Homo sapiens: one gene and its partners. The protein of the gene in region 1 purifies or fractionates together with the protein of each later gene. This does not show direct contact. Each region holds a gene or a part of one and is shown in the gene's direction. Other genes may lie near its edges. The genes, in order: SCAMP2, PIGR, RTN4, RAB2A, RAB5A, RAB5B and GNB1.

Region 1 (4,033 bases):
TAATTTTTGTATTTTTAGTAGCGATGGGGTTTCCCCATGTTGGCCAGGCTGGTCTTGAACTTGTGACCTCAAGTGATCCACCTGTCTCGGCCTCCCAAAGTGCTGGGATTACGAGTGTGAACCACCGTGCCCAGCCTGTTTTGTTTTTTTGAGACAGAATCTCAGTCTGTTACCCAGGCTGGAGTGCAATGGCGCAGTCTCGGCTCACTGCAACCTCCGCCTCCCAGGTTCAAGTGAGTCTCCTGTCTCAGCCTCCCAAGTAGCTGGGATTACAGGCGCACACCACCACGCCCAGCTAATTTTTGTGTTTTTAGTAGAGACAGGGTTTTGCCATGTTGGCTAGGCTGGTCTCAAATTCTTGGCCTCATACAGTTTTATTATTAAGAGATTTACTTAGTTTTACTTATTATTAGAGATTTTACTTATTATATAGAGATTTACTTATTATTAAGAGATTGGCTTAGTTTTTCTTGCCTGTTATGAAACGCAAGTACTCCAGGAGATGGAGTGTTAGGTTCTTTGTTTTTTATTTACTTATTTTTCTGAGACAGAGTCTTACTCTGTCACCCAGGCTGGAGTGCAGTGGCGTGATCTTGGCTCACTGCAGGAGTGTTAGGCTCTTTATATTGTCCTTTGGGGGAGCAACTTTATCAGCTCTTTGAGGAAGGGGTCAAGCACTGACCCCTTAAATTGGAAGGCAGTGAAAGGCAAGCTCTTCTTGATTATGGTGGGGGGTGTGTGCGTGTCCTTACGGGTGGTATGGCTGGGCCCCTGGAGCTCTGTCTCTTGCCCATGCTGCCTCCTGGCTCCTAGTGAGGAGGGATGTCACACCAAGTAAGGATGCTGAGGAACACAGCCCAAGCCCTCTTGTGACTTATTTCCCTCTCTCTCCACAGGTCCGACAACTCTTTCAGCTTCTTTGTGTTCTTCTTTGTATTTTTTTGTCAAATAGGGATCTACATCATCCAGTTGGTTGGCATCCCTGGCCTGGGGGACAGGTGAGACCTGGGCATCACAGAGGGAATTAGGCTTTGGATATGGGACTCAGCCTCTCTTGCCCTGTTTTCTAGCTCCCACAGAGCCCCGCCAGTGCCCTGCTTTTCCCATGGCGGGGAGTGGGTGAGTGGGCCAGCTCGGATCTGCTTTGGGCCTTCTCTCCAGTTCTTCATCAGTAGCCACTCACTTTTTTTTTCTCCTTGATACTAAAGGCATCAAAAGACACTCACTATTGGTCAGGTGCAGTGGCTCATGCCTGGAATCCCAGTACTTTGGGAGGCCGAGGCAGGCAGATTGCTCAAGCCCAGGAGTTCGAGACAGCCTAGGAAACACAGGAAGACCTTGTCTCTACCAAAAATTAAAAAAATTAGCCTGTTGCAGTGGCATGCACCTATAGTCCCAGGTACTTGGGAGGCTGAAGCAGGAGGATCACTTGAGCCCAGGAGGTTGAGGCTGCAGTGAGCCATGATTGCACCACTGGACACCAGCCTGGGTGACAGAGTGAGATCCTGTATCAAAAAAAAAAAAAAAAGACACTATCTTCCCTTGCTCTCCACTTTCCAGGGTATTGTGGGTGAACTTGGCTTGACTCTTTAGGCTACCATGACAGTGTCCTGCACTGGATTGCAGCCTCTTCCTTTTCTCCTGCCACACCCTCCTGAAAGCTGATGGATGCCCAGGCCTTTGCAGACTCTGAGCTGCAACTTTTTCCAGATGCCTTGTAACTTAAGGAGACGGTTCCCTCACCTCCCCTGGACAGGCTTCTTCTGGCTGCCCTCTTTGAGCATACGGCTGGTTTGAGTTTCCAGGGTACCTCAGTCCTCAGCTCAAAATTAATCTCAAAAGAAAAGCTGATGGCTGATGTTTTCCTTTCTGCCCCAGTGCACAGGGAGCATTGCAGAAAGGTCAGACTGGCACTTGGCTGACAGCCTGAGCCTGGAAGGGCGGTGCTATTTTGGTCCCCTCCCTCTGGCAGAGCTGGCAAGTCCAGAGCAGTGGGGAGAGAAAGGTTGCCTCCCCTTGCCCTCCAAACAAGTGCACGCTGCCCTCCCACCACCCCTCATGCTTCTTGCCCTGCTGTTGTTAATCTGGTCCCTTTTGACCAGTGACCCAATTTCATTACTCCTTACCTAAGTAAGACCCTGGTAGAAAAGCTGTGATTCATGACTGCCGTTTGCACCTGTACTGGGAATCAGAAGGCTTGAGTTGGCTGGGTGCGGTGGCTCATGCCTGTAATCCCAGCACTTTGGGAGGCCAAGGCGGGTGGATCACCTGAGGTCAGGAAGGAGTTTGAGACCAGCCTGGCCAACATGGCAAAACCTTGTTTCTAGAGAGTACAAAAATTGGCCAGGCGCATTGGTAGGTGCCTATAATCCCAGCTACTTGGGAGGCTGAGGCAGAAGAATCACTTGAACCCGGGAGGTGGAGGTTGCAGTGAGCCGGGATCACACCACTGTTCTCCAGCCTGGGCTACAGAGCAAGACTCAATCTCAAAAAAAAAAAAAAAAAAAAAAATTAACTGACAATAGGTGTATGGGTTTATTTCTGGAATCTCAGTTCTATTCCATTGATCTATTGATCTATATGTCTATGTTTATGCCAGTCCTACACTATTTTAGTGACTGTAGCTTTGTAGTAAGTTTTGATGTCAAGAAATATGAGGATATCCCTTTTACAGATGAGGACATGGGGCTCAGACAGGTGACAGCAAGTTGGCCAGTGATCCTCCTTCACAGAAGGTGGGTCCTCAGGAGTGAGCAGCCACGCTTTCCATACTCCCCACCCCCAAAGCAGCAGAAAAAGGCCCGGCCCAGTGCTACCTTTTTAATTAATTATTTTTTGAGATGGAGTCTCTGTTGCCCAGACTGGAGTGCAGTGCCGCGATCTCTGCTCACTGCAAGCTCCGCCTCCCAGGTTCACGCCATTCTCCTGCCTCAGCCTCCCGAGTAACTGGGACTATGTAGGTGCCTGCCACCATGCCTGGCTCATTTTTTGTATTTTTAGTAGAGATGGGGTTTCACTGTGTTAGCCAGGATGGTCTCGATCTGCTGACCTCGTGATCCGCCCATCTTGGCCTCCCAAAGTGTTGGGATTACGGGCTTGAGCCACTGTGCCCAGCCCTTTTTCTTTTTTCTTTTCTTTTTTTTTTTTTTTTGGAGACAGGGTCTCACTCTGTTGCTCAGGCTGGAGTGCCGTGGCGTGATCACAGCTCACTGCAGCCTTGAACCTCACGGGCTCAAGTGATCCTCCTACCTCAGCATCCCAAGTAGCTGGGAGCATAGGCATGTATGACCACAGCCAGCTAATTTTTTTTTTTTTTGAGTTGGAGTCTCGCCCTGTCACCTAGGCTGGAGTACAATGGCATGATCTCGGCTCACTGCAGCCTGCACCTTCCAGGTTCAAGTGATTCTCCTGCCTCAGTCTCCCGAGTAGCTGGGATTGCAGGCGTGTGCAACCACGCGCAGCTAATTTTTGTATTTTTAGTAGAGCAAGGTTTCTCCATGTTGGCCAGGCTGGTCTCAAACTCCTGACCTCAAGTGATCTGCCTTCCTTGGCCTCCCAAAGTGCTGGGATTACAGGCACGAACCTGGCCTTTTTTTATTTTTTATGGAGACAGGGCCTCCCTCTGTTGCCCAGGTTGGTCTTGAACTCTTGGGCTCAAGCGATCCTCCTGCCTCAGCCTCCCAAAGTGCTGGGATTACAGGTGAGAGCCATAGCACCCAGCCCGGTGCTACTTCTGACTCTGTGAAGGCAGCAACCACATCCTCCCTTTCAGACCTCACATAACCAGAAGATTCCCCTTGTGAATGGGGTAGTGTGGGCCTGTCAGCCTTCACGGAGGTCTGGCCTCACAGGCCAAGGGCTTCTGGCTCACAGGGCTCCCTGTGCTGTGGGGAGATGCCAAGGTGATGGTCAGGACACAGCAGCCACTTGGAGAAGAGCCCCTTATGCTGACTTTTGGAGCCCACTCCCACTTTGCTCCCTCTGGCCTCTTCTTCCCTTTATAGCGGTTGGATTGCAGCCCTGTCTACACTGG
Region 2 (4,990 bases), on another chromosome or scaffold:
TCACCCAAGACCGCTCTCTCCAGACTGGACCCCAGGGGAGAGAAGGGAGACAAAAAGGAAGGGAACTCCATAATGAGGCTAAATTTTAAATCTGGAGTGAAGTGACTGAGAGATCACTGAATTGGGCTGAGCTTGCCTAGAAGTGACTAGGTAACTTGTTTTCTTTTATCAGTCAGATTATGGGTTTAGGGTTTGAAATTAAGCTACATCTGGAAGCCATCATCCTCATCAAACTAACACAGGAACAGAAAACCAAACACCACATGTTCTCACTCATAAATGGGAGCTGAACAATGAGAACACACGGACACAGGGAGGGGAACATTACACATCCGGGCCTGTTGGGGGGGGTGGGGGGAGGGAGAGCATTAGAACTAATAGCTAATGCATGTGGGGCTTAATACCTAGGTGGTGGGTTGACGGGTGCAGGAAACCATCATGGCACACGTTTACCTGTGTCACAAACCTGCACGTTCTGCACATGTAATCCTGGAACCTAAAACAAAATAAAAAAAGAAAATCTAAGTTTGCAAACCACAAAAAAAGAGAGAAATTAAGCTACATAAAGAAATTATGGGGTTTTTTTGCTTGCCATTGAAATCTGTGATTGTGTGTTAACACCCACAAGTGAGCCAGTGGTTAGCTAAAATAAGACCCAGGGCTCTGGCTGCCTTGTGTTTCTCCAGGGCTCTATTTCTCTATTTTTCCTTCCCCTTCTGGTGTTTGGCCTATAGGACTCTGTAGGGAGAGCCTGGGTCAGCCCTGCACAGGTAGGATGGGCAGCATTTCTGTGGGGGTTTGCAGTGAGGGGTCGGGGGGCCATACACGTGTGTGTTGGGGAGTGGGCTTCACTTTTGTCACAGGACTGCCACGATCATTTGGGGAACACCTGGGAGTCCCAACCAGGTCATGTTTTGGCATGGACTAACAGATAGGGAAGGAGGTGCTACTTCAGCTCAGCAGGTCAGCACCGTCCTTGCTATGGAGCCGAGCCCGGGTCCTAACAAGACTCTGAGGTCAGCCATGTTCAGGGGAGCCCAGAAGCAGCGAGTCTTTCATGACTCTGGGGAGTGAAACAGGAAGGGCCACAGTCCTGCCAGTTCCTGGAGCTCTGGGACTGGTAAAAGGGGCTTGGCAGGAGGTGTATAAGGGGCATTTTTGTCCAGGCTAAGTAACCTAGGGAGTCGGAGGGGATTCCAGAGCAACTGGGGATATGAGACCAAGGACTACGACAGCCACTCCTGCCACCTGTGCCCCATCAGATGATGTCAACTTCAAATCAAGCATTGGGCCAGGTATTTTAGAGCTAATACCGGGCTATATCCTCTACCTGTAGATTTGGTATTACCATCCCTCTTTTCCAGATGAAAAGAAATAGGAAGGTGACTTGCCAAAGGTCTTGCAGCTAGAAAGCGACAGAACAGCATCTTCACGCTTGACATTCTGTCCCTCATCCTGAAGCTGCAACGATGGAGGATTCCCAAGTAACAGAGTCTCCCCAAGGTCAAAGGAAACCAAATGGAGCCAGCCAGGAAGGCCAAAATGAAAGGAAAGCAAGGGATCTGTGAGAGTCACATGACCCTGGCTGGCCACGGTGCCTGTGGGAGAGTGGCCCTTTAAGAGCCCAGGTGTGGGTCAAACACTGAGCAGAGTTTCAGTTTTGGCAGCAGCGTCCAGTGCCCTGCCAGTAGCTCCTAGAGAGGCAGGGGTTACCAACTGGCCAGCAGGCTGTGTCCCTGAAGTCAGATCAACGGGAGAGAAGGAAGTGGCTAAAAGTAAGTGTTACTGCTCTGGGATCCCCAGACGGGATGCTATCTGGAAAGGGCTCGGGACGATGGCTCAGGTAACCCCCTCCATTCCCAACTCCCAGTCTCCTAGATAGTGGGGTGACAAGGACAAGGAGGCAGACTGTGTGACTGTGTGTGGCTGGGGAGTAAGCGTGCATATCGCAGTGGGACGAGTAGGGATGCACGTGTGTGGAAGCCCCCCATCCTTTTCTGAGAAATATCAGCAGGTGGGAAGGGACCTCTGTGGTCAGCATATGTAATTCTACTCTTTCAGCTTGGTCTGTGCCTGGATTTCCTAACTCCTCATAGTTGATTAACTGTGTGGCCTTAGACAAGCCACCTAACCTCTCTGATCCTCAGTTTCTTAATCTGTAAAACAAAGATAGAAATAACACCTATCATTCAGGGTCAATGTGGGTTCAAATGAGAAAACACAGGTGAAATAGCTTTGTAACCTCTAGAATGAAATAGGAATTGTTTCATATTTTTCAGTTTAGTTTAATTAATCAAGGATTTATTGAACACCAACAGACCTGGAATTAGATAGTGCGCATAAAGTATGGCACCTAGCAAGTCCTCTTCCATTCTTTGAGGTTTCCCACTTGTGGCTTTCTGGCAAAGGCATGTTCAGCTCCTTTTTTCTGGGCTTCCAAGAACCTCTGAAATCCTTTGCAATTCCACCTCGCTTTGCTCTAGCAGATTCCTGCCATGGGAGACATAAATGTGTGTCATCGCATCATCCTGCCCTTCCTAGAGGTAGAAAAAAAGAGGTCCTCACGGGATCACTGAGTGAGGTGGAGCTGAGCCCCACAGGCAGCATGATCAACTCCTGCTGTTCCTCCTGGCTCTGCAGCCAGCAGATCTCAGACATGGGCTTCCCCTCCCTTTGCCCATCCTGACAGCAGCCCAAGCCAGCAGTGGGACCGTCCGGCACAAGGGCAGCAGCGGGTCAAGCTCCATCCCTGACCCCCAGTTCCCTTTGTGCAATTGCCACAGTGCCTGGGGCCATTGAAGCTGCTCCTATTTTGTGCCATCACTTTCCCCCTTCACTAGGGGAATTATAGATCCTTTAACATCTGGAGAGGAGATGCCAATTTCAGGGGTTTAGGTAGAAGGCAGCTGTCTGGTGCCTGGACATAGGTCTTCCCAGAGCCAGATCTGGAATTCTCTCTCCATCCTTGTCCCGCCCCTGGATGTGCTAAAGTAGCAGAAAGAACACTGAGCCAGGAGTCAGGAAAGCAACTCTCTCTGCTTATCTCCTAGTGCCGCTAGACCTCTGTGGCTTTAGGTGATAAAAAATGGGGTCACACAGGCTTCCATTTAGTAAACCCACTTGCCCTGGGCTTTCACACCTTCGTCTCATTCTCCCTTGATACCAACGAGGAGGTAGGCAGGGTTGGTTTTGTGATGTCATTCCCTAGTTGAGGAAACCAAGACACCGTGAGTCTATGTGAGTGGTGTGAAGTCACCAGCAAGTTTGAACGATGAGGTTTTGGTACAGCCATTTTGATATGGTCATGAGGACATTTTGATGTCACCTAAAAAGCAAACTATCCAACTTAAAAAAAAATACCTATGCATTGTGCTCAGCAGAGACCTTCATCTATGTCTTGCCCTCTCTCTGGAGGGGCTGGGGCTGGAGTCCCAATGTCACTGGCATCGACACAGTATGGTGGAGTGGAAAGAGGCTTTGGCGTCAACATGCCTGGTTATACCCATGGTTATGTAACATATCCTACACATGGTAGGTGCTAAATAAATAGCAGCTAATATTTTCCAGGAAGAAATTTCTCTGTTGGCACCTACCTCTGGGTCCAGGTGTCTCTTCATTTTTTAATTTTTTATTTTTTTGAGATGGAATCTTGCCCTGTCACCCAGGCTGGAATGCAGTGGCGTGATCTTGGCTTACTGCAACCTCCACCTCCTGGGTTCCAGCGATTCTCCTACCTCAGCCTCCTGAGTAGCTGGGATTACAGACCCATGCCACCACACCCAGCTAACTTTTGCACTTTTAGTACAGATGGGGTTTTACCATGTTGGCCAGGCTGGTCTTGAACTCCTGACCTCATGATCCACCCACCTCAGCCTCCCAAGGTGCTGGGATTACAGGCGTGAGCCACTACGCCCGGCCCCAGGTGTCTCCTTATAAGAACTGCCTTTTCCGTGAAAGGCAGAGAGGAAAGAACTGAACAAATTCTCAGTTCGCTAAGATTGAATATCCTGCTTCTTCCTCTCTCCACTGCTTCCTCTCAATAGGAAGACCCTCTGAGGTAAAGCAGAGTGGCTAAGGGCCTATGCTCTTGATCTAGAATCCCATCTAAGTCACTTACCAACTGTGCAACCTTGGGCAAATGTCTCACCTCTCTGTGCCTCAATTATCTCACTCATGAAATGGGGTTGCCCATTTTGTCCCATCTCCTATGGTGGCTGTAAAAATGGAACACATTAACACATGTAAAGCACCTGGAAAGGACTCAGCGTACGTTCTTCTAGCCTAGCCCATAGTGCTTGTCTCCTCTCTTATCCACATGAGTCCAACCTAAGTAGCTCACTCTCCATCTCTCTATCTTCAAAGGATGTCCAGCAAGCAGACTTCTACTCTCATACCAAGTCCAGGGGACCTTTCTTCCTCTGAAAAAGAGGGAAACCTGAGATTAGATGGACAAAGGTTTGGACTCCACACCATGAGAGATGAAGTGCAGTCACTTTAACTGAACAGGAGCTAGTTAAATACATTTTATAAAAAGAAAAACTATCCTTCAGCACAGCTTACACTCCTGCCCCAATCCACAATTGTGGGGACATATGTTACACATATGTTGGGATACTAACTTAGTAAACTGAAAATGATCTAGCACATCCTAGCCTCAGCAGTGAAAAAACAACTGCTAGTTTAAGGACCAGAAAACGTGCCCTCATGCATGATATAATATCATATATATAAAACCCAATAAAGCAGGTCCCTTTGCTCATTTAAAGAGTGATAATGGGGTAGTGACCTCAAATTAGGATTCTGCTGTGGGTCTTGGGGTCGAGAATCCCTATAACCCTTAGATTTCCAACCTGTGTCATGAGGATAACAACATCTATCTCTTGGGTTGTTGTGCTGATGGATGAAGTCTTACAAGAAAAGAACCTAGCAAAGCATTTGGCACGTAGCAGGTGCCCAACATTATGTTCTTTTTCTTCCTTCCTTAAGCAAA
Region 3 (3,846 bases), on another chromosome or scaffold:
TACAGGTGTGAGCCACCATGCCCAGCCTACAATTATGACTATTTCCATGTGAAACCATCTTCCTCAGAAATTGAAATTTTAGAGCCGCTCTTGCTAGCATGTGAAACCTTTTCCTTGCTTATTGCCTTTTGGCGGGGGCAGTGAAGGAGGAGCCTGGCCTTTCAAAATGTGATCAAAAAAATAACCAAACTCCAGGGCTCATTAGTCCTTTTATAAACACCGGTGTGAAATGATGGGTATCCGTGTGCCTGGTCCAAGTTTCCTGGTGGTTGACTTGGGCGAATAAAAATAAGACATGTTCTGCAGAGTTCTCCTTTTAAATTCTTGTGTAATATTCCGTTTGTTTTGCTCCTTTGCAATTAACTACAAACTTCTAAGTCCTAGAAAAGATTTCAAGTATTTATAGAGTGAGCAACGATCATTTTCCTAGTCAAATAGTATGGCAAAAATCACTGTTTTAAAAAGTTGTGGCATTAAACTATAAATCCTCCCTCCCCTCGCTTCCCACCCGCAATTATGAAAGAAAAGCATATGACAATGCCTACTGGGCTCAGCTTTTGGGCTAATTGAGTCTGACTGAGCCTTCTTAGCAGGTTCCTGTCTTTTGAAACCTCAAATCCCAAAAAGCTGTCTAATAATTTTACTTTTTTAGGGACTAAGACCAGGTATTTTCAGCAGAGGTTCTTACTTTTCTGTAATTGAGGCGCAACTATAATGTTCCAGAACACAATCTTAAATCTGAAAGTGAGAGGAAGAAAAAAAAAAAAACGGCCTGAGCTCCAGAAATAGCTGACCCAGAAGAACACTAAAATCTAGCTCTCAGGCTCATAGGCAGCTGTTAACATTCACATTTTGACAGCTTCCTTTCAGGTTTCTTGAGCTCTCAGAAAAATTAGAAGGAAGTGGGCTGGGGATATAGAGAGAGTCCAAACTACCAACTAATGAATGAATCTGAAGGAGACACAGAAGGGCAAGTAGAGTTTAGAGTTTGAGAGTGCAGGAAAGTTTTGAAATGGTCAGAACTGCCAGAGTAATTTCTGAGATCTTACTAAGCACTCTCCCACCGTTTGCCTTAAAGATACCCCTTCCCCCAAATTGAAACATCACAAATCTGCAGAGCTCTTTAATCAGGTGTGTTATACACAGTGAATTTAATTCTCTTATTGCCCTGGAAGAAAGATAAACCAGATGTGGCCCTTGCCCCTTTTCAGTAAGTATTTGTTAGATCTTCATTACATTTTAGGCCTCCTTCCTCCAGTCTCGATACTGTGCAATGGAGAGATAAGCTTTGACCTCTTCAGTTAATAAGTATTGGCTATAATGTTGCAAAGTATTTGCCATGGAATCGTGTAGAATTTGTTAAGTCCAAAATGAGAGCAGCCTGTTTGCTTCTTTAAAGTGTTTATTGACCTTATTCCTGCCATGTTACAAATCCATCATTTGTGGTGGATTCCCATTAATAATGGTTACTCTCTAGGTTAGTTCTTGCTGCCACCCCTTTCTCTCCTGGTGGTGTGTTCCCTGAATACACTTAACCACTATTTCTGTTTTGGGCCGCCGAAGTATTCAGTTTTCTCAACATAGCTGCAACATTTAAAAATTATATGATAGCACACAAAAGTGTACATTTCTGGCAACACTGGCCTGGAATATTTGCATGGCCACAGCGTATGGAGCAGGGTTGTAAGTGCCCCTTTGAGAGGAAGAATGCATATCACTGTGTGCCTCAGTTCTCTCCCAGCCTCTCACATACATGTATGTCACCTGCCTGGCCCTAAGGACATTTGAGACCTCCCTGTGTTCTTCTCTTTGTCTTGGGATAGCCTGGCTTTTAGGAAGTGTTCTCAAAGAGGCAAGTGACATTTGAGCCCCTACAGTGGCTCAGGTGTGAAGTCTTGGGCTTTTCCCCTGTGGACTTGGAGTGAAGCCTTGTCAGTGACTGTAATGACCAAATGAGGAGTTATTTTAGCTTGTGTTTGTTACTATCTTCTGTCATGTTAAGGGCATCTTCGTTGCTAGAGTAATTTCTTCTAAAATATGGAAGGTCAACACTTTTCCCTTTAGACTTGTGGATAGTGATGGATAAAAATAACTCTCTTACTCTATAGTAAACTTGCTCAAGTGCAAAAGTTATATTTAGCTTCAGCAATAGGAGTCTATAAAACTGTGAGAGAAAAGCCTTACTAACTGAAGTCATCCTTCAAACCTTTCTACCAGGGGTTCCAATAGCAATTGCTAAGAATACGGCAGCTTAAAAAAATTTTTTTTCAATTGACAGATATTAAGAATGCCTGATATTTACTGACTTGAACATTAGTTAAATTCAGTTAGGGTGACCAGAGTGTTGCTATTTGTAGAACTGTTGCTTGGTAGAGTCATCCAAAGTGTCTTCCTAAGCTGTAATAAATATGCTTACTAATGTTTGACTGCTTAATTAATGGTCAGTAAGCATTCAGTCAGAGTTCGTTTAATACATGGAGAAAGATATATGCTTTAGATCAAGGGTTAGCAAACCACTGCTTGTTTGGGCCACGGCCTGTTTTTGTATAGTGTGGGAGCTAAGAGTGGGTGGTGTACATTTTTAAAGGGTTATGACAACGACACAGAATAATATGAGACACAAACCCTATGTGGCCCATAAAACCTAAAATTCTACTGTCTGGCTCTTCACAGAGAAAGTTTGCTGATCCCCGCTTTAGATAATGGGGGTGCTCTACTACTCCCCTTTTCATTTATAGTGTTACATAAGCCTAAATAATCACTGTAGCTGGTGGCATCATGTTTGTTACCTACTAAGTAGGTCAAAGTGATTGCCAGACATACACATGAAGGCCTTGAATTAGAAAGCAAAGGAACTGATGATGACCAATGTTTAACAAAATTCAGACTGACTTTGTGCCTGATCCTTCAAAGGCTAGAGGTGATATTTTTGGTACCTGAAACGTAATTTCCCTGATAAGTACTCTTTGCCCAATTATTGCTTATCAGCTGAGATATTAATGTCTGAATTATTCAGCTCATATATCTTCAAGCACTCAACTAGTTCATACTTTGAAATCAATTCTAATAGACAATTCTCATAACACCTTTATAGTCTTCCCATTTAAAAGGTAAATGTTGTTAGGGCTGGAGGGGTAAGATGCACCCTTGGTATATTGTCTGATCTCAGCAGAATCAACTACTTGGTAGTGTAGTCCAGAGAAAATGGGTCAAATCTATTAATTATTTTAGGATTTTGAAATTCATAATTGAGACTCGTGACTTAATAGTGAACTGCTCATGGTACTTTACCCAGTCTTCAAGTTGTATGCCTTTTGTAGGTAGGCATTTAGATGGGATGCTTTTGAAAGCATAATTAAGAAACTTTACTTGAATTTTGTTTATAATGGGCTAATGTTATTTTCTTATAGTTTGCAGTGTTGATGTGGGTATTTACCTATGTTGGTGCCTTGTTTAATGGTCTGACACTACTGATTTTGGGTAAGTCTACAAAGCCATTGGGATGAAAAATTGCTGGAAAGATTGTGTGCCAGGAGCTTAGACATTTTAGTGGAGAATATTCTCATTGTATGAAAAGTAGGGGATGAAAATGTGGGCCGGGCGCGGTAGCTCATGCCTGTAATCCCAGCACTTTGGGAGGCCAAGGTGGGCGGATCACCTGGGGCCAGGAGTTCGAGACCAGCCTGGCTAACATGGTGAAACCCCATTTCTACTAAAAATAGAAAAAATTAGCTGGGCGTGGTGGCGCACGCCTGTAATCCCAGCTACTCCGGAGGCTGAGGCAGGAGAATCACTTGAGCCCAAGAGGCAGAGGTTGCAGTGAGCGGAGATCGTGCCATTGCACTC
Region 4 (4,044 bases), on another chromosome or scaffold:
CAGCATGCTGCTACCAATGCAACACATGCAGGCAATCAGGGAGGACAGCAGGCTGGGGGCGGCTGCTGTTGAGTCTGTTTTTACTGTCTAGCTGCCCAACGGGGCCTACTCACTTATTCTTTCACCCCCTCTCCTCCTGCTCAGCTGAGACATGAAACTATTTGAAATGGCTTTATGTCACAGAAGACTTTAATCCGTCAAATTCTTGTATAACTTTGAATAAATGGTTAATGTTCACTTAAAAGACAGATTTTGGAGATTGTATTCATATCTATTTGCATTTGATTTCTAGGTCAATTGATGTGATTATTTTTGTTAAATGTTGTCTTGTGCCCTTAACTACGAACTGAATTGTATTAAACACTACAAAGTCATCTTGAGTATTTTAAATCGGTTTGTGTAGTTAGGTTTCCCAACATCTGTGGTTACCTAATGTTTAATATTATAGAACTGTCCTCAGAAACTTTGTCAATTTTCACGGCTATAAGGAAACAGAAGGACTCTTTTAATTCTGTATTTATCATTTACTTTCTGTATATATAGTTTAATAACCTGCTTGGGTGTAATTTGCCAAGCTTGAATTCTTTAATGCATTTGCATAAATTCTATACTGTTTAGAGCTTAAAGCTACAGAAGCATTGTTAGGAATTGCTTGGACACTGAATTTTAAACTTTTTGACATTGTTAACAAGCATGTTCATCTTTTCTTGTCACTAGTCCAAGAAAAATATGCTTAATGTATATTACAAAGGCTTTGTATATGTTAACCTGTTTTAATGCCAAAAGTTTGCTTTGTCCACAATTTCCTTAAGACCTCTTCAGAAAGGGATTTGTTTGCCTTAATGAATACTGTTGGGAAAAAACACAGTATAATGAGTGAAAAGGGCAGAAGCAAGAAATTTCTACATCTTAGCGACTCCAAGAAGAATGAGTATCCACATTTAGATGGCACATTATGAGGACTTTAATCTTTCCTTAAACACAATAATGTTTTCTTTTTTCTTTTATTCACATGATTTCTAAGTATATTTTTCATGCAGGACAGTTTTTCAACCTTGATGTACAGTGACTGTGTAAAATTTTTCTTTCAGTGGCAACCTCTATAATCTTTAAAATATGGTGAGCATCTTGTCTGTTTTGAAGGGGATATGACAATAAATCTATCAGATGGAAAATCCTGTTACAAAGTAGAAAAGCTTTAGTAATTTACTCAGTGTGGTGGTTTTATCCTTTTTTTCTTTTTCTCCCTTGGTCTATAATGAAATTGTTACAGCAGTGCAAAATAAAATCCTATGTATAAAAGTGTTCTTTTTTTTTATTATGACCACCTCTTTTTTAATGTATTTTTAGTCCACTTACAGCTTTTACATGGGTTTAAGCATGTTTTTTAAAAGGGTCAGAATGGTTAACACTCAACCCTTTTTAAAAATTTTGCTAAAATGCGACAAATCTCACCATACTGAAATTATTTTTGTTGATGGTGTAAGCAGTGTAAGCAAGTGTTTTCTCCTGAACTAGCACAAAAGCACTTATGCCTGAAAGAAAGCATAAAGAAGTTCTAACTCTGAAACTAACTACTTTCATTTCGCTCATGGCCTTCAACTTTCTACAGGTCTTCCCTGAAGATTCAGCAGTACTCTCTCAAAGGTTTGACAGTACTCTTGTGGGAAATCACCAAATGCTGTCATAGTTTTGTTTTAACTGTCTCCTTGAGGGCAGAGGGAAGGGTGAGAGAAAATCTGTTTTCATGGGTATTTGTAGTACAGCCTTTTTTTCTTTCAAGTGGCTGTATCAAATTCACTGGTCTTACTAATCACTGTCTTTACCAGTGAGTACAAAAAGTTAAGGCAACTAGGACAGGTACTGCTCTATACCAAGAAGAGAATGATTCTTTGGAAATTGTTATTTTTAAGCTTCTGTTAATTTTTCCAGAAGTTTAGTGCGTTTCTTTTCCATACTTTCTCCCCTAATTCTTTTATTTGAAGAAGAGAACTTAATGGCAAATAAACAACAAACCAGGACATGCATTTTAATACCCTAAGGAAAAATGGAACCCTCAAATATAACTCCTCCCACAACCACCCTAATGTGCCTCAGTCTGGGGCAGCAGGTGGACTTCTCAATAGTTCTTTTCCACATTCTCTACAAATCACATCTACCGTTAAGGAATATGTTATGAATCCTTTCTGTTAATTGAGAAAGCAATGTTATTGTCTGTGATTTCCAGTCTTTGCTCATTTTATTATCCCTGTCAAATAATGTAATATTGGTACCTGCAGTTGAATTTGTAATATTGTAATTGAATTTTTAGTTGATCTTCGATCAGTTTTTATAGCATCTATGGACATAGAAAATCAGTCACTGAAAAAAATAAACACAGCTTTCAATGTCTCACTCAACATGTAACATTCAAAATTGTGATCTTCATAAAGACATTGTTACCATTCGTCTTGCAAATTTAAGACAACTGAATGAAAAGCCAATTTTTTGAAAGAATGTGGCATATAATTAGATATACAACTGAAACAGGATATACAACTGCATACAATTTGTTTTTAATGATATTTTAAAATAGCCTGTTAGCAGGAAAATAGTCCCTATTTATCTGCTAATGGTCAAAAAGAGTTAGGATATAAATCGTACCAAAATGTTTCCAATCACTCAGAAAAACTGATTCATGTCTGGCTTTGCAACACCTTAAACATTTATTCTGTCATAGATAGTAAAGCCCCATCTCAGTTTATTTAGTCCTGAGGTTGGCAGCATGGGGTTTGACTATATGAGCTAAAAGATACACAAAGAGATAACGCTGTTTCATAATAAACAGGAATTGACTATACAAATAGGTAAACCAGCATATCTACCTGTATTTCTCAGAGTTTAGATGTGTGCTTTATGTTTACATTAAAATAAAGCCTAACGCCACAGTAGATCATCTCATACTGCATTCGGATGTACTAGGTATTATTATTTTTTGGTTGAAGTCACGACAGAGAACTTCATTTTATTTATTTTGTTTATTTTGGGAGACAGGTCTCACTCTAATCCCCCAGGCTGGAGTGCAGTGGCGCCGTCTTGGCTCACTGTGACCTCCACCTCCCCAGGTTCAAGTGATTCTCATGCCTCAGCCTCCCAAGTAGCTGGGATTAGAGGTCCCTGCCACCACGCCCGGCTACTTTGTATTTTTAGTAGAGACGGGGTTTTGCCATGTTGGCCAGGCTGGTCTCAGACTCCTGACCTTAGGTCATCTGCCCACCTCAGCCTCCCAAAGTGCTGGGGTTACAGGTGTGAGCCACCATGCCTGGCCAAAAACTAAGTGCCAGTCTATATATTAGTATTAATTAGTTTTACAAAATTATGAGGCCAATTCTTAAACATTGAAGGACAAAGCACCAAACTCCTGATAGAAAAATGGAGGAAAATGAGCAATTTACAAAAAACATACAAAGTGTCCCTAAAATGCATTTTTAATTCAAATGTGAGTGATGGATACATTAATTTGCTTCACTCTAGTAACCTTCTATTTATGTGTATCCCATAACAGGTATACTTTTAAACACAATAAAATTTATTTTTAAAAATTCAAACAAATGCAAATTAAAGCTCAGATGCCATTTCTCACCTATGAGACTGGAAGAAATGTAAAATACAACGCCACATTGTATTGGTGAGGCACCTTTGTGTGGTGTTGGTAGAAGTGCAAACTGGAACTACCTTTCTGGAGGGGAACTTGGCAATACCTAATAAAATTACATGTACACTTGCTGTTGGCCCAGAAATCCCACTTGTAGGAATCCGCCCAAATGATAATTCTCCAATAAAGCAAAAGCTCCATATGCACAAGGTTACTTTCTGCAGCATTGGTTGTAATTAGAAATTATTGGAAATGACTTATATGTCATTTCCACTTATAGTGATTCAATAAACTATAGTGATTCACTAAACTGTGTCCATCCACACAGTGGAGTCCTACACAGCTATAAAGAAGGGTGAGGAAGAAGATCTCCAGAATACACCAGAAACTAGTTACAAACACTGGGTGGG
Region 5 (4,465 bases), on another chromosome or scaffold:
CAATCCGATCTCAAAGCAGAGTGTATTCAATTTCTGAGTAACCTGAGTCAAAGCTATGGTAAAGTTAGAGTCTTACCATAGTGGTCTGTCCCCAAGATTGATAGAGATCAGTGTGTGCAGCCACTCTTAAAATCAGTACTCTTAGTCATCTTTAATATTCTGCCTCCCCTCAAAAAATGAATTTAGCACATCAAGGATCTTATGTATTAAAACAAACTACAGCAATCTCCAACTTTACAGTGGTTTGACTTACGATTTTATAACTCGATGGGGTGAAAGTGATATGCATTTAGTACATTCTTAACTTACTACGGGATTACATACAGAAACCCATCATAAATTAAAAATATCATAAATCAGGCTGGGCGCAGTGGCTCACTACCTGTAATCCCAGCACTTTGGGAGGCCAAGGCGGGCTATCACCTGAGGTCAGGAGTTGGTCAGGAAACAAGCCGGGCCAACATGTCGAAACCCCGTCTCTACTAAAAATAGAAAAATTAGCTGGGTGTGGTGGTATGTGCCTGTAGTCCCAGCTACTTGGGAGGCTGAGGCAGGGGAATTGCTTGAACCCAGGAGGCAGAGGTTGTAGCGAGCTGAGATCGTGCCACTGCACTCCAGCCTGGGTGACAGAGCGAGACTCCGCCTCAAAAAAAAAAAAATCATAAATCAAAAACATACAACTTAGGATGGATATATCAGGATGTAGCCCCATTGTAAGTCAAGGAGCATCTGTATATCCAGCAGGTAAGTTTTTTTAATCAGTGGGAAGCACACTCCAGAGAACAGCCACTAGCTGTATAGAGCTTGGCAGAGGTAAAGCCGTAACTGCTGGTTGAGAGTGTTGTCTGAATTTGACAAGCCACACTCATCGGACTCAAATAAAATTAAGAAATAGTTTTTGGAGATGAGGTCTTCAGGATAATTCTATCTGGATTAGGTACAGCTACTGGTCAGTCAGATTAGGATTCATCAGCCCATAAAAGGAGAAAATGAGGTTGGTTGAGGTGGCTCACTCCTATAATCCCAATACTTTGAGAGGCCACGGTGGGATGATCTTCAAGGCCAGGAGTTCTAGACCAGCCTGGGCAACAGAGCAAGACCCTATCTCTACCAAAAAAAAAAAGCCAGGCATGGTGGTGCACACCCTGTAGTCTCAGCTACTTGGAAAGCTGAGGTGGGAGGATCTTTTGAGCCCAGGAGTTCAAGGCTGCAGTGAGCTATGATTGATGCACCACACTCTAACTTGGGCTACAGAGGGAGACCTTGTCTCCAAAATGAAAAGAAGTATGGCTGCAGGCTACATTCAAACTAAGATCACAACGAAGTGTTGAGTATGTATAAATGTATGTGGATATGTTTGTGTCTAAGTGTATTTCCACTAGCATGCTAAGGTATGTTTGTGTGTGAGTATGTTTCCTCCAGTATGCTAAGTTTTGACACATGCAGGCATCTAACTTGGGTGTTATCTGTCCTTCCTTTGCCCAAAGCATAGATTATAATTGTTCATTCTCAAAAATGCAACTCTTATCTATTTCCCCTTTATTTGAAGGCAGCTGATGGTTACTCTGCAAGGTGTAAGTTTCTCTTTTAAAAACTAAGCGGTCGAGCATGGTGGCTCATGCTTGCAGTCCCAGCACGTGGGAGTCTGAGGCGGAAGAGTTGCTTGAGCCCAAGAGTTCAAGACCAGCCTAGGCAACAAAGTGAGACCCCATCTCACTTTGGAACTCAGGACTGCAGTAAGCCATGATCATACCACTGCACTTAATCCTGGGTGACAGAGTGAGACCTTGTCTCTTAAAAAAAAAAAAAAAGAGAGCATGTATATAGATGTTTTAAGGCCAAAGGCTGTGGAAGCCAGGAAGGAAATAGTAGATATGATCTATCACAATTCGGGGTGATAATTAGTTGCACAGTAGAGGACAAGTTTTGTTGGGGTGATGATTGCAAAGGTATTTGTATCCTGACTTGTTCTAAAAAATGTTTGTGGCAGTCTAGAGAACGCTGATATGAGCTGAGCTTCTTTATAAACTTACTGGCTGGCCATCATCTTTATTGACTTAGATTTTATTTAATAGAAGTAATAATGAGGCCAGGTGCCATGGCTCACGCCTATAATCCCAACACTTTGGGAGGCTGAAGCAGGTGGATCACCTGAGGTCAGGAGTTCAAGATCAGCCTGGGCAACATGGTGAAACCCCGTCTCTACTAAAAAACAAAAATTAGCTGGGTGTGGTGGGGCATGCCTGTAATTCCAGCTACTCGAGAGGCCAAGGCACGAGAATCACTTGAACCCAGGAGGTGGAGGTTGCAGTGAACTGAGATCACGCCATTGCACTCCAGCCTAGGTGAGCCTGGGTGACAGAGTGAGACTACATCTCAAAAAAAAAAAAAAAAAAGAAGTAATAATGAGTATAAAATAAAATAGAACTTTTCTGGTATTATTGAGTGAATCGGTATAGAGAATTACATAAAGCACTAGTTAGGCTTAAGTTTTAATTGTATCTACAACCAGTCCCCATCTACCGTTCCCCCAACACAATTACCCCAGAAATCAAACTCCCTAAGACAGCAACCAATATTTTGGCATTCAATACTCAGTAAACATTTGAAAAGAATGAACATATGGTTATATGATACTTTGGGGGTAACCTAACTGGAAAGAAAAATTATAGATAAGCAGGTGAAACTGATATTAATATGAGTATTCAAATATTCTATTTATTTGATCATTTTCTTTCAGCTAAAAAATTGCCAAAGAATGAACCACAAAATCCAGGAGCAAATTCTGCCAGAGGAAGAGGAGTAGACCTTACCGAACCCACACAACCAACCAGGAATCAGTGTTGTAGTAACTAAACCTCTAGTTTGAACTAGCTGGAATAGTCTTCTGCTTCCTAAATGTTAATAACAATGGAATTGGAGCATTTAACCAGCCCAGTATGACTTCCAAAAGAAGAGACTTATGATAGAGTCAAGTTTCTAATACAGAATTATTTTAAGTGTTTTGAACTTAATTTTTAATAACATGCATGGGTCCCTCTCACTAATGTTTCAACAATAGGGAAAAATGAGAACTATGTGGACACTTGTTTCATTGGAAGGTTAGGGGGAATAATTTCTCATCACTAGGAATATAGACAAATGACTGTCTGGGCCCACACAGTTAACCAGCCCATTTCTCCACACTGGTACAGTAGTCACCTGTGAAAAAAAAATTGGAACTTACTAATTTGGGCTTTTCAAAAACATTCTTTGTTTAGAAGGAGATTCTAAAGTTATTTATGATGCTTAGCCATAGTATTCAGGCAAATGTTCATTTCTCCTGGTACCTGTATTTAAAATGTACATTCCACATTTTAATAAATTAACCACAAGAAAATAATCCCACATATACAAGGTCAGGGGTGGGGAAGAGTATTAATGGTATCTTAATTATACCCAGTCTGGTTTTTTTTTTTTAAATGGGGTAAAAATCAAATGCAACCCCATCTTGTTTTAGGAATTTTGAGAACTAATAAATGCACCTTAATGGTCAGTGTTCCTTTCAAACATGTGAGTTCTTTAACAAAAATGAAATAAACCAGGTGTCTGTGATTTCTAATTAATCACCGCTGGCCATTACACAGGTTTTGTTGTTTGGGGTGGGGAGGGGGCTTTTGTTCCCTTTTGACATAATATAGTCAATGCACTAACAATTATGTATATTCAAACTTGATTATTTTAAATTCGATCTTCAGCTGTACTGTAAATAGGGTACTGCATTGTAGTCTCCATATCTGTATTACTTTTCTGTAATATTTAAGAGTTGCTTAAAAGCATACAAAATGTACTGTTACTAAAACAGCTAATTATTTCTCTCTCCCCCTTTGACAGGAAGGGGCTTCAGTTGTTCCTCCATGGCTAGAACCATAATAAACAATGTACCCGTAATTTGTAACATAAAGTATTGCAATATGTTAGTAACAATCTTGCAGCCTTCCTTTCCAAAGTTCATTTTATTTTGATCAGTTCAGTATATTGCACTAATTATTTTAGGTATTTTCATTATATGAAAGCTACCATGTGTCAGAGATGATTTAATCTATTTAAGTGTTGGACTGCTAGGAGAACTTGTACATTTATGATAATGCAGAATTAGGAAAACGGTTCACCAGTGTTTAGTTTTATATTGAGGTGCTCAGGTTGGAATAAAGTGGTATAAAAAGCAAGTATCGGCTTTTCTCTTTTCCTTTTTTTTGGCATAAAACAGTGAATATATATAAATGATACTATATGACCTAGTATCCGCTTTTATATTTTCTTTACTATGTTCATAAAATTATTTGCATGGTATTGATGAATCATCCTAATAGCTGGATCATTGAAGAATCACTTTATATTTTGGTGCTCTGGATAATTGGAACTTTATTTTTTTATGTCAGAAGCTGATATTCACTTCCATTGAGAAATATTACCATAACTGTAA
Region 6 (4,465 bases), on another chromosome or scaffold:
TCTTCTACCAAGTCCGACAAGCAGAGGGCTGTACTGTGTGTTATTCACCTTGAGTACACACAAACACACACACCCCAAGTTGTGTGCTGGGTGTCCTAGGAAGTGCCCAAAGAGATGGAACAAAACTTTATGGGGAGAAAGGATCATTTTGGTTGGGATAATTGTTGGCATCTCTGCTAAAGAAAGGAATTTCAGACCCTTATCTCAAATTCATGGTCTCTGGATGTTCATGGTCTCTGCATGTTCACATTACTTGACTATCCCTTTCTTATCCATGATGATGATGGTTCTCCTAAGAGGCCCCTGTATTTGTCTTTCTTTTCTTTTCTTCTATTTTTAGAGACAGGGTCTTGCTTTGTCACTTAGGCTGGAGTACAGTGTGTGTCTTTCTGTAGGGATCTGAGAAGCTCCAAGCTTATCTGGATTTGAAATCGGTTTTCCTCTAAATCTCAGAGTCAGAGTACAGCTGGGGCATTTCATACTACCACCTTATTAATTGAATTTGTCCTTACTAGCTTTAAAAGCCCTCTGTTGTACCCAGCCTTTGTACAGCGCCCATTGGAAACCTCGGTTTTTTCCCCCAAGGAACTTTTCTCACCTGCAAGCCAGTCCTAGAGACAGTTGTGTAGGAGTATGTGTGTGTGTTTTTAGACGGAGTTTCACTTTTGTCACCCAGGCTGGAGTGCAGTGGCATGATCTCGGCTCACTGCAACGTCTGCCTCCTAGGTTCACGCGATTCTCCTGCCTCAGCCTCCAGAGTAGCTGGGATTACAGGCGTGCACCACCACGACCAGCTAATTTTTGTATTATTAGTAGAGACGGGATTTGACCATGTTGGCCAGGCTGGACTCTAACTCCTGACCTCAGGTGATCCACGTGCCTCAGCCTCCCAAAGCACTGGGATTACAGGAGTGAGCCACCGCGCCTGGCCGTGTGTGCGTGTGTGTGTGTGTGTTTTAATCCTATCTAATTTTTCCAACAGTTTTTTGCATCCTAAGAGAGTTTAGGAGTAGAATTATCAATAAGGAATTTCATACATAGACCTGGAGTTGCAAAAATATATTTGGAGAAGAGAGCTTTCCCATTGCCCTTCAAGTCATACCTCATATCTTTTAAAATTTTTTTCCTGGACAATCCCTACTGCATAACATACCTCATATCTTCTAACTCTTACTTTACCTGGGAGCAAATATTGCTTATTGGTATGAATTTTACTTCTGAGAAGGAGGCATAGGGTAGAAGAAGCAAGCGTATAGTTTGCTCCCTAATCCTAAAGCATTTCAGATTGGAAGGTAACCAAAGTGTGAGACAATGAACTTATAATAAGGAAATGCAGCAGCCCTCTTGGAGGAAGGATACCATAAAACCCTACATGGTATACTCCCACTTCCGTTTTGGGAAAGATTTAGCCATTGACTCAACAGTAACTGAACTGAATAAGGAGCTACCCAGGTGAACAAAGTATGTGTACATTTCTGGGCAAGGTTGTAGCTTCTGTTCAGGGACAGTGGGTACCTTTTCAGAGTGTCTCCTGGTTCTGTGGTGTTATGGCTCCTTTTTTTAAACTTGTGTTTCTCAAGTCAGGAATTAATAGATAGTGGCCCAAAGCTTTTGACCGTTCAACATCAACTGAAAATTCAGCGAACTTTGTTTTTAGCTATAGTTGCCTCAGTGTTTGGGTGGGAGGGCCACATATTGGGTGTGATTAGGCCATCTGAGGCATAGTAACGGGTGACAGGAAAAGCAGTTAGCCCATGCGAGTTGCAATAGTACCTTGTGGGCAAGATCCCAAGGGGGCCCTCCATCCAAGGGAGATCACAGAGGAGCCAGGGAGAGAATTGATTCTGAGGCCTATTAAAAATATTCCCAAATGGGGCCGTGTGCGGTGGCATGCGCCTGTAATCCCAGCACTTTGGGAGGCTGAGGCGGGTGGATCACGAGGTCAGGAGATTGAGACCATCCTGGCTAACACGGTGAAACCCCGTCTCTACTAAACAAAATACAAAAAATTAGCTGGGCGTGGTGGTGGGCGCCTGTAGTCCCCCAGCTTCTCGGGAGGCTGAAGCAGGAGAATGGCGTGAACCTGGGAGGCAGAGCTTGCAGTGAGCCGAGATCGCGTCACTGCACTCCAGCCTGGGCGACTGAGCAAGACTCCGTCTCAGGAAAAAAAAAAAAGAACCCAAATGGAATTGAGTAAGATCTGTCCAGATGGTACAGAAAGGGAGGAGTTGATTGGGGGAGAGAAGTAGAATTACTTAGCCTTAATTTAGGGAGCATTTAATGAGCACCTACTAGGGATCAGGCAGCATGCTGTGCTCTGAAGATTTTAAGATAAACTCCCACTTTTAAAGAAGTTCATAGTTTAGCAGAGCAGACAGACACAATTTATATACTGTGATAATGTGATACATACTATTATAGAAATACAGTCTTTTTTTTTTTTTTTTGAGACGGATTCTTGCTTTGCTGTCCAGGCTGGAGTACAGTGGTGCAATCTGTGCTCACTGCAACCTCCGCCTCCCGGGCTCAAGCAATTCTCATGTCTCAGCCTCCTGGGTAACTGGGATTACAAGCCTGTGCCAACATGCCCAGCTAATTTTTGTATTTTTAGTAGAGACGGGGTTTCACCATATTGGCCAGGCTGGTCTCGAACTCCTAACCTCCAGTGATCCATCTGCCTTGGCCTCTCAAAGTGCTGGGATTACAGGTGTGCGCCACCACACCTGGCCAGAAATACAGTCTTAATACTGTGGGACCCTACGGGCCTCTAGAGAATGATTAATTCTGTGGGGGAGAGGGTGATTATGTAATTTCACTGAAGTAACATTTGAGCTTGGTCTTATGAGATATATAGAATTTTGCTAGGCAGACAAGTAGGGACGGGCATTCCAATCTTACCTAGGTCAATAATAGGGAGTTTGTACTACCATACTGATAAGAGGTAAGTATGCTTTTTGCCTCTTGGAGAAATATAAGGGAAAGGGTGCGAGATGTGGAAGGAATCTCATTTAATCCAATGACTCATTAGGTAACACTGGATCAACAAAATGAAGAGCTGAGCCAAGTGGTAGAACTCTCATTTCAAGATTTTGGTGACTTGGGTTTAAACAGAGTTGGAGAGGGAGATGAAGGTATTTACTGGTTTCTGCTCTATCTTCCCTACTTAGTAAAACTCTCACATTAATCGCAGGGCCCACCAAATTCTGCAAAAGTTACCGCTTGTTTTCCTATTGCCTCTCATTGAATTGCTTCTATTTCAACTGTCCTGGCAGGGTTTGGTCATAGACCTTCTAGAAAAGAGTAGTGATGAATTAATTCTTCTGTCAGAAAGATATGGGACTGCATCCCAGTTGCCAAGGAAGGCCTGGGTCTTCTTAATTTGTTTTTAGTCCCAAAGCAAGTACTTACCTAAACTGAATAGAGGCAGGAACTCTATCCAGTCTAAGCTCTCGATCCTGTCCTGGTGTTCTCTTTAGAGTTCAGCATTTCCTGCTTCCTTAAGAAGTATAGTGGTATAAGAGGCAGGAGTACCTGACTAGGAGTCCTACATTTACTGCTTAGCAGTTGGCTGTATGGTAACACTTGACAAGTTGACTAATTTTATTTTATTTTTTATTTATTTATTTATTTTTTGTGCAAATGGTGGCCTTTAATACCAAGAAAGACCATGACAAGTGACAGAACAGGAGCAAATTCCCTAGTGTAGTGCCGAGCTAGCCCTTTGCAGGACCCTAAAACCTGATCTAGTAACAGAATAAATCAGTGTATTTACATTTATGTTTGCCCTGAAAACCCAGGTAAGGTCTGAAGCCTGAGGCATCTCTCCTTCCTTTCCTCCTCCCTCTCTTCCTACCTCCTTGCCTTCGTTCACTTCCTCAATTCATTCCTCTCCCTTCTCCCTTCCTCTCTTTTCCTTCTTTTCCTTTCTGCTTTTCCCTTTTCTCCTTTTTCTCCTCATTCTCTTTACCATCTACCTATGTGTCCCTCCAAGCCCCTCTGCTATTTCTCCCCTGCTCACTCCCTCTGCTGTTGTCTCCCTCAGGTTCAGCTTCCGGGGTGGGGAGGCAAGAAAGGGTCCTCAGCTCAGGGAGCACTTGTTGGTGTTCTTTATGTCACAAGTTTTCAGGTCAGTACTGGGAGGCTTGTTGCCGTTTCCTGATCTCCGGCCTCCTGACTTGAGCAAGATGTCCCGGGCCAGGGAACTAAAAGCCTCATCCACATTCATACTGGATTTAGCACTAGTTTCGAAAAATCGGATTCCATGCTCTCGAGCCAACTTATCGGCCTGCTCCTTCTGCACCTTCCTCTTGGCCTCCATGTCACATTTGTTCCCTAGCAAGAGGTGCTCCACCCCAGCTGAGGCATTCTCCATGATGCTTTTCATCCAGTTCTGAATATTCTCGAAAGATTTCTCATCCGTGATGTCGTATGCTAGGATAATGCCCATGGCTCCACGGTAGTAGGC
Region 7 (4,465 bases), on another chromosome or scaffold:
ACAAAAGCAAAACTCCATCTCAAAAACAAAAAAAAGAGGCCGGGCGTGGTGGCTCCCGCCTGTAATCCCAGCACTTTGGGAGGCTGAGGTGGGCAGATCACGAGGTCAGGAGATCGAGACCATCCTGGCTAACATGGTGAGACCCTGTCTCTGCTAAAAATACAAAAAGAATTAGCTGGGCGTGATGGTGGGCGCCTGTAGTCCCAGCTACTCGGGAGACTGGGGCAGGAGAATGGCATGAACCCCGGAGGCGGAGCTTGCAGTGAGCCGAGATGGCGCCACTGCACTGCAGCCTGGGCCACGGAGCGAGACTCCGTCTCAAAAAAAAAAAAGAAAAAAAGAAAAAATTCGTGATAGTTACTGGTCTCTGCTCCCGGACCATGCGCAGTGGTGCTGTTGTTTACCAAGCAGGTGAGGAGGGAACGCCTCCTTTGGTTTCTAGGAGACCTTGATTCCAATTTTAGCTCAGTCTGGGAAATTTCATGGGGTATTTTGGGTGAGAAATGTTTCATGAATTTGGAATGTCTAAAAGTGGTTTGTTCTTTCTGTTTGTTTTTTTTTTTTTTTTTTTTTTTTTTTTTTCAGTCAGGATCTCGCTCTGTTGCCCAGGCTAGAGTGCAGTGGCGCAATCTTGGCTCACTGCAACCCCCGCCTCCTGGGTTCAAGCAGTTTTCCCACCTCAGCCTCCTGAGTAGCTAGGATTACAGGCATGCACTACCATACCCAGCTATTTTTTTGTGTTTTTGTAGTGGAGACGGGATTTTACCATGCTAGCATGAGGCCATGCTGGTCTCAAACTCCTGTGATCCACCTACCTTGGCCTCCCAAAGTGTTGGGATTAAAGACATGAGCCTCTAATTTGATTTGTAATGAAACCAAACAGAAACACTTATGAAATGATGTCAGCCTGTCTCAGCTGACAAAGGGAATGGGTGCCAGGGGTGATGTGGCCTGCATTCGGTTGGGGCCAGGCATCTCCACTCTCAACTGTGGTCTGTGACAGTGTTTTTGTTCATGCTTTGAAGTTGGTCTGACATTTAGAGCCTTCCTTTCCTTTCTTTCTTTCTTTCTTGAAACAGAGTCTCACTCTGTTGCCCAGGCTGGTGTCCAGTGGCATGATTGTGGCTCACTGTAACCTCCGCTTCCTAGGTTCAAGCGATTCTTCTGCCTCAGCCTCCCGAGTAGCTGGGATTACAGAGACGCACTACCATGCCCGGCTAATTTTTGTATTTTTAATAGAGACAGGGTTTCGCCATGCTGGCCAGGCTGGTCTTGAACTCCTGACCTCATGTGATCTGCCCACCTCAGCCTCCCAAAGTGCTGGGATTACAAACGTGAGCAACTGTGCCCGACCAGAGATTTTTTTTCTTATAAATAAGTGGCTTTGTCTGAAGCACATGTAACATGGGAGCACATAAGCCACCAGAGTCTGGGTTTTAGTCTGTTGCTCTTGTACACTTTCTGTGTTGTGCGGTACTGATAGGTTTGCTTTTGTCTGTCCCTCCAGGCTTCTCGTCAGTGCCTCGCAGGATGGTAAACTTATCATCTGGGACAGCTACACCACCAACAAGGTAGGGACTGGAGGATTCCCTTCCTTGAAAAACCAACCCAGGAAACAGGGTTTTAAGCTCTGGATTCATTTTGTTAAATCACGTAATACAGGATAGGGAAGGCAGCAGCGGCAAGCTCTGTTTGTTAGTAGTGAAGTTGCGCAGGTGAGATAGAAGCTGAGTCACGTGCCACCTGTCACGGTCTCTTCCTCTGGACCAGGCACAGTTGTGCTGTTGTCCGTCATCTCCTTACCAAGCTGGTGGGAGCTAAGGACCTTCTGTGTTTCTAGGAGACCTCAATTCCAGTTTTAGCAGAGTCTGGGAAGTTTCATGTTTTATTTATAGAGTGCAGAAGTATCACTTTTCATTCAGTTACAAGTTTTTAGAAGAGATCATCTGAAAGACATCATACTTTAAAGTGTAATTTATGTTATTTTCAAGACTTAATCCAAAGTGTATTGTTTTGAATAAAAAGTATTGTCATTGGTCCAAACATGTATGTAAAAGATGTAATTCAGTTTATTTTACTAAAGAATACTAAATGTGTATAAATGATTGCATTAATTACAGCAGATCTAAAACAGTGGGAGAGATGTGGCAGGGTAGATTGTAGGAATGTCCATTTTGGTTATTCCATAAAAATCTTTTGTTTTCGGCTGGGCGCCGTGGCTCACACCTGTAATTCCAGCATTTTGGGAGGCTGAAGCAGGTGGATCACCTGAGGTCAGGAGTTTGAGACCAGCCTAGCCAACATGGTGAAACCTCGTCTCTACTAAAAATACAAAAAATTAGCCAGGAGTGGTGGCAGGCGCCTGTAATCCCAGCTACTCAGGAGGCTGAAGCAGGAGAATTGCTTGAGCCCAGGAGGCAGAGGTTGCAGTGAGCCTAGATCACGCCACTGCACTCAAACCTGGGCAACAAGAGCGAAACTCCATCTCGAAAAAAAAATTTTTTGTTTTCAGATGAGTTCATAGCCATTTGACAGGATAATGCAGTGTTTTCCTTCCAATACGTGTGGGTTTTTTTGTGTTTTTGAGACGGAGCATTGCTCTTACCGCCCTGGCTGGAGTGCAGTGGCGTGATCTCTGCTCACTGCAGCCTCCACCCCCCTGGTTCAAGCGACTCTCCTGCTTCAGCCTCCTTGAGTAGCTGGGATTACAGGCGCCCACCACCACACCCAGCTAATTTTTGTATTTTAGCACAGACAGGGTTTCACCAATTTGAGGCCAGGCTGGTCTCGAATTCCTGACCTCAGGTGATCCACCCGCCTTAGCCTCCCAAAGTGCTAGGATTACAGGCATGAGCCACCGCACCCGGCCTGTTTGTTTTCTTTTGAGACGGAGTCTCGCTCTGTTGCCCAGGCTGGAGTGCAGTGGCGTGATCTCAGCTCACTGCAACCTCCGCCTCCCGGGTTCAAGTGATTCTCCTGCCCCAGTCACTCAAGTAGCTGAAACTACAGGCATGCGCCATCACGCCCAGCTAATTTTGGTATATTTAGTAGAGACATGGGGTTTCACCATGTTGGCTAAGCTGGTCTTGAACTCCTGACCTCAGGTGATCTGCCCGACTTAGCCTCCCAAAGTGCTGGGATTACAGGCGTGAGTGACCGCACCCGGCCTAATGTGGTTTTGATGAGTGGGCAGCACTACTGTTAAGACTCCACCTAATCATAAGTTGTGACTTCAGTAAAACTGGACTGTGTGGATTGAATTTGAATCCCATGTGCAGCACTGGACTTCTCATTAAGTATGCTTCACCTGAGTGGCCACATATGGGAATCGCTCTCTAGATAATTTTGGCTCTTATTTTGTTCTGTTACCTCCTTTGCAGTGAAAGTTGGAGATGAGAAAATCCTGGTGTCAGTGTTGTTTTTGAACATAAAGTTGTTTGCATCATCTGTCTTTCTGTCATTAGGTCCACGCCATCCCTCTGCGCTCCTCCTGGGTCATGACCTGTGCATATGCCCCTTCTGGGAACTATGTGGCCTGCGGTGGCCTGGATAACATTTGCTCCATTTACAATCTGAAAACTCGTGAGGGGAACGTGCGCGTGAGTCGTGAGCTGGCAGGACACACAGGTACCTGTCCTTGTTCATAAGCTTCAAGTGACACAAGCTGTTTACCTGGGGTACATTATATGCTTTGGATACTCACTTTTTATCAATCATTTTTTAATTAATTAATTAATTATTTTTTTTGAGGCGGAGTCTCGCTCTGTCACCCAGGCTGGAGTGCGGTGGCGTGATCTCGGCTCACTGCACGCTCCGCCTCCTGGGTGTTCACGCCATTCCCCTGCCTCAGCCTCCTGAGTAGCTGGGACTACAGGCGCCCACCACCACGCCCAGCTAATTTCTTTTTTGTATTTTTAGTAGAGACAGGGTTTCACCGTGTTAGCCAGGATGGTCTCGATCTCCTAACCTCGTGATCCACCCACCTCAGCCTCCCAAAGTGCTGGGATTACAGGTGTGAGCCACCACACCCAGCCTTTTTTTCTTTTTTTTTTTTTTTTTTTTTAAAGACAGAGTCTCACTATGTCACCCAGGCTGGAGTGCAGCAGCGCATTCTTGGCTCACTGCAACCTCTGATTCCTGGGTTCAAGCGATTCTCCTGCCTCAGCCTCCCAAGTAGCTGGGACCACAGGTGTCCGCCACCACGCCCAGCTAATTTTTGTATTTTTAGTAGAGGCGGGGTTTTGCTGTATTGGCCAGGCTGGTCTTGAACTCCTGACATTGTGATCCGCCTGCCTTAGCCTCCCAAAGTGCTGGGATTATAGGCGTGAGCCGCTGCGCCCGGCCTTATGAATCATTAAATGAGACTGGTTCAAATAAAAGTCACAGTAATGGCCAGAAGTTTTCTGAAAATGAAACTAAAAACAAGCCTGATATGCCTTTACCAGTAAGAAACCTGTGGATTTGC

What was found.
Region 2: the proteins of SCAMP2 (region 1) and PIGR purify together in Homo sapiens (affinity purification with mass spectrometry; one large-scale study listed by BioGRID and IntAct). This does not show direct contact.
Region 3: the proteins of SCAMP2 (region 1) and RTN4 purify together in Homo sapiens (affinity purification with mass spectrometry; 2 studies listed by BioGRID and IntAct, with this or other methods). This does not show direct contact.
Region 4: the proteins of SCAMP2 (region 1) and RAB2A purify together in Homo sapiens (affinity purification with mass spectrometry; one large-scale study listed by BioGRID and IntAct). This does not show direct contact.
Region 5: the proteins of SCAMP2 (region 1) and RAB5A purify together in Homo sapiens (affinity purification with mass spectrometry; one large-scale study listed by BioGRID and IntAct). This does not show direct contact.
Region 6: the proteins of SCAMP2 (region 1) and RAB5B purify together in Homo sapiens (affinity purification with mass spectrometry; one large-scale study listed by BioGRID and IntAct). This does not show direct contact.
Region 7: the proteins of SCAMP2 (region 1) and GNB1 purify together in Homo sapiens (affinity purification with mass spectrometry; one large-scale study listed by BioGRID and IntAct). This does not show direct contact.

Annotation. Positions count from the first base shown.
Region 1 is NC_000015.10:74,845,565-74,849,597, reverse strand, and holds part of SCAMP2 (secretory carrier-associated membrane protein 2), read left to right. Parts: intron 1-896; coding exon 897-998; intron 999-4,004; coding exon 4,005-4,033. UniProt on the Homo sapiens protein: Functions in post-Golgi recycling pathways. Acts as a recycling carrier to the cell surface.
Region 2 is NC_000001.11:206,943,121-206,948,110, reverse strand, and holds the start of PIGR (polymeric immunoglobulin receptor precursor), read left to right. Parts: upstream 1-1,644; 5' UTR 1,645-1,775; exon of another isoform or gene 1,776-1,843; intron 1,844-4,990.
Region 3 is NC_000002.12:54,974,329-54,978,174, reverse strand, and holds part of RTN4 (reticulon-4), read left to right. Parts: intron 1-3,410; coding exon 3,411-3,480; intron 3,481-3,846. UniProt on the Homo sapiens protein: Required to induce the formation and stabilization of endoplasmic reticulum (ER) tubules. They regulate membrane morphogenesis in the ER by promoting tubular ER production.
Region 4 is NC_000008.11:60,620,698-60,624,741, forward strand, and holds the end of RAB2A (ras-related protein Rab-2A), read left to right. Parts: coding exon 1-72; 3' UTR 73-2,947; downstream 2,948-4,044.
Region 5 is NC_000003.12:19,980,968-19,985,432, forward strand, and holds the end of RAB5A (ras-related protein Rab-5A), read left to right. Parts: intron 1-2,740; coding exon 2,741-2,856; 3' UTR 2,857-4,208; downstream 4,209-4,465. Other genes in the region: PP2D1 (protein phosphatase 2C-like domain-containing protein 1), read right to left, coding at 4,413-4,465. UniProt on the Homo sapiens protein: The small GTPases Rab are key regulators of intracellular membrane trafficking, from the formation of transport vesicles to their fusion with membranes.
Region 6 is NC_000012.12:55,976,344-55,980,808, forward strand, and holds part of RAB5B (ras-related protein Rab-5B), read left to right. Parts: intron 1-3,028; coding exon of another isoform or gene 3,029-3,131; intron 3,132-4,465. UniProt on the Homo sapiens protein: The small GTPases Rab are key regulators of intracellular membrane trafficking, from the formation of transport vesicles to their fusion with membranes.
Region 7 is NC_000001.11:1,803,581-1,808,045, reverse strand, and holds part of GNB1 (guanine nucleotide-binding protein G(I)/G(S)/G(T) subunit beta-1), read left to right. Parts: intron 1-1,507; coding exon 1,508-1,571; intron 1,572-3,464; coding exon 3,465-3,627; intron 3,628-4,465. UniProt on the Homo sapiens protein: Guanine nucleotide-binding proteins (G proteins) are involved as a modulator or transducer in various transmembrane signaling systems.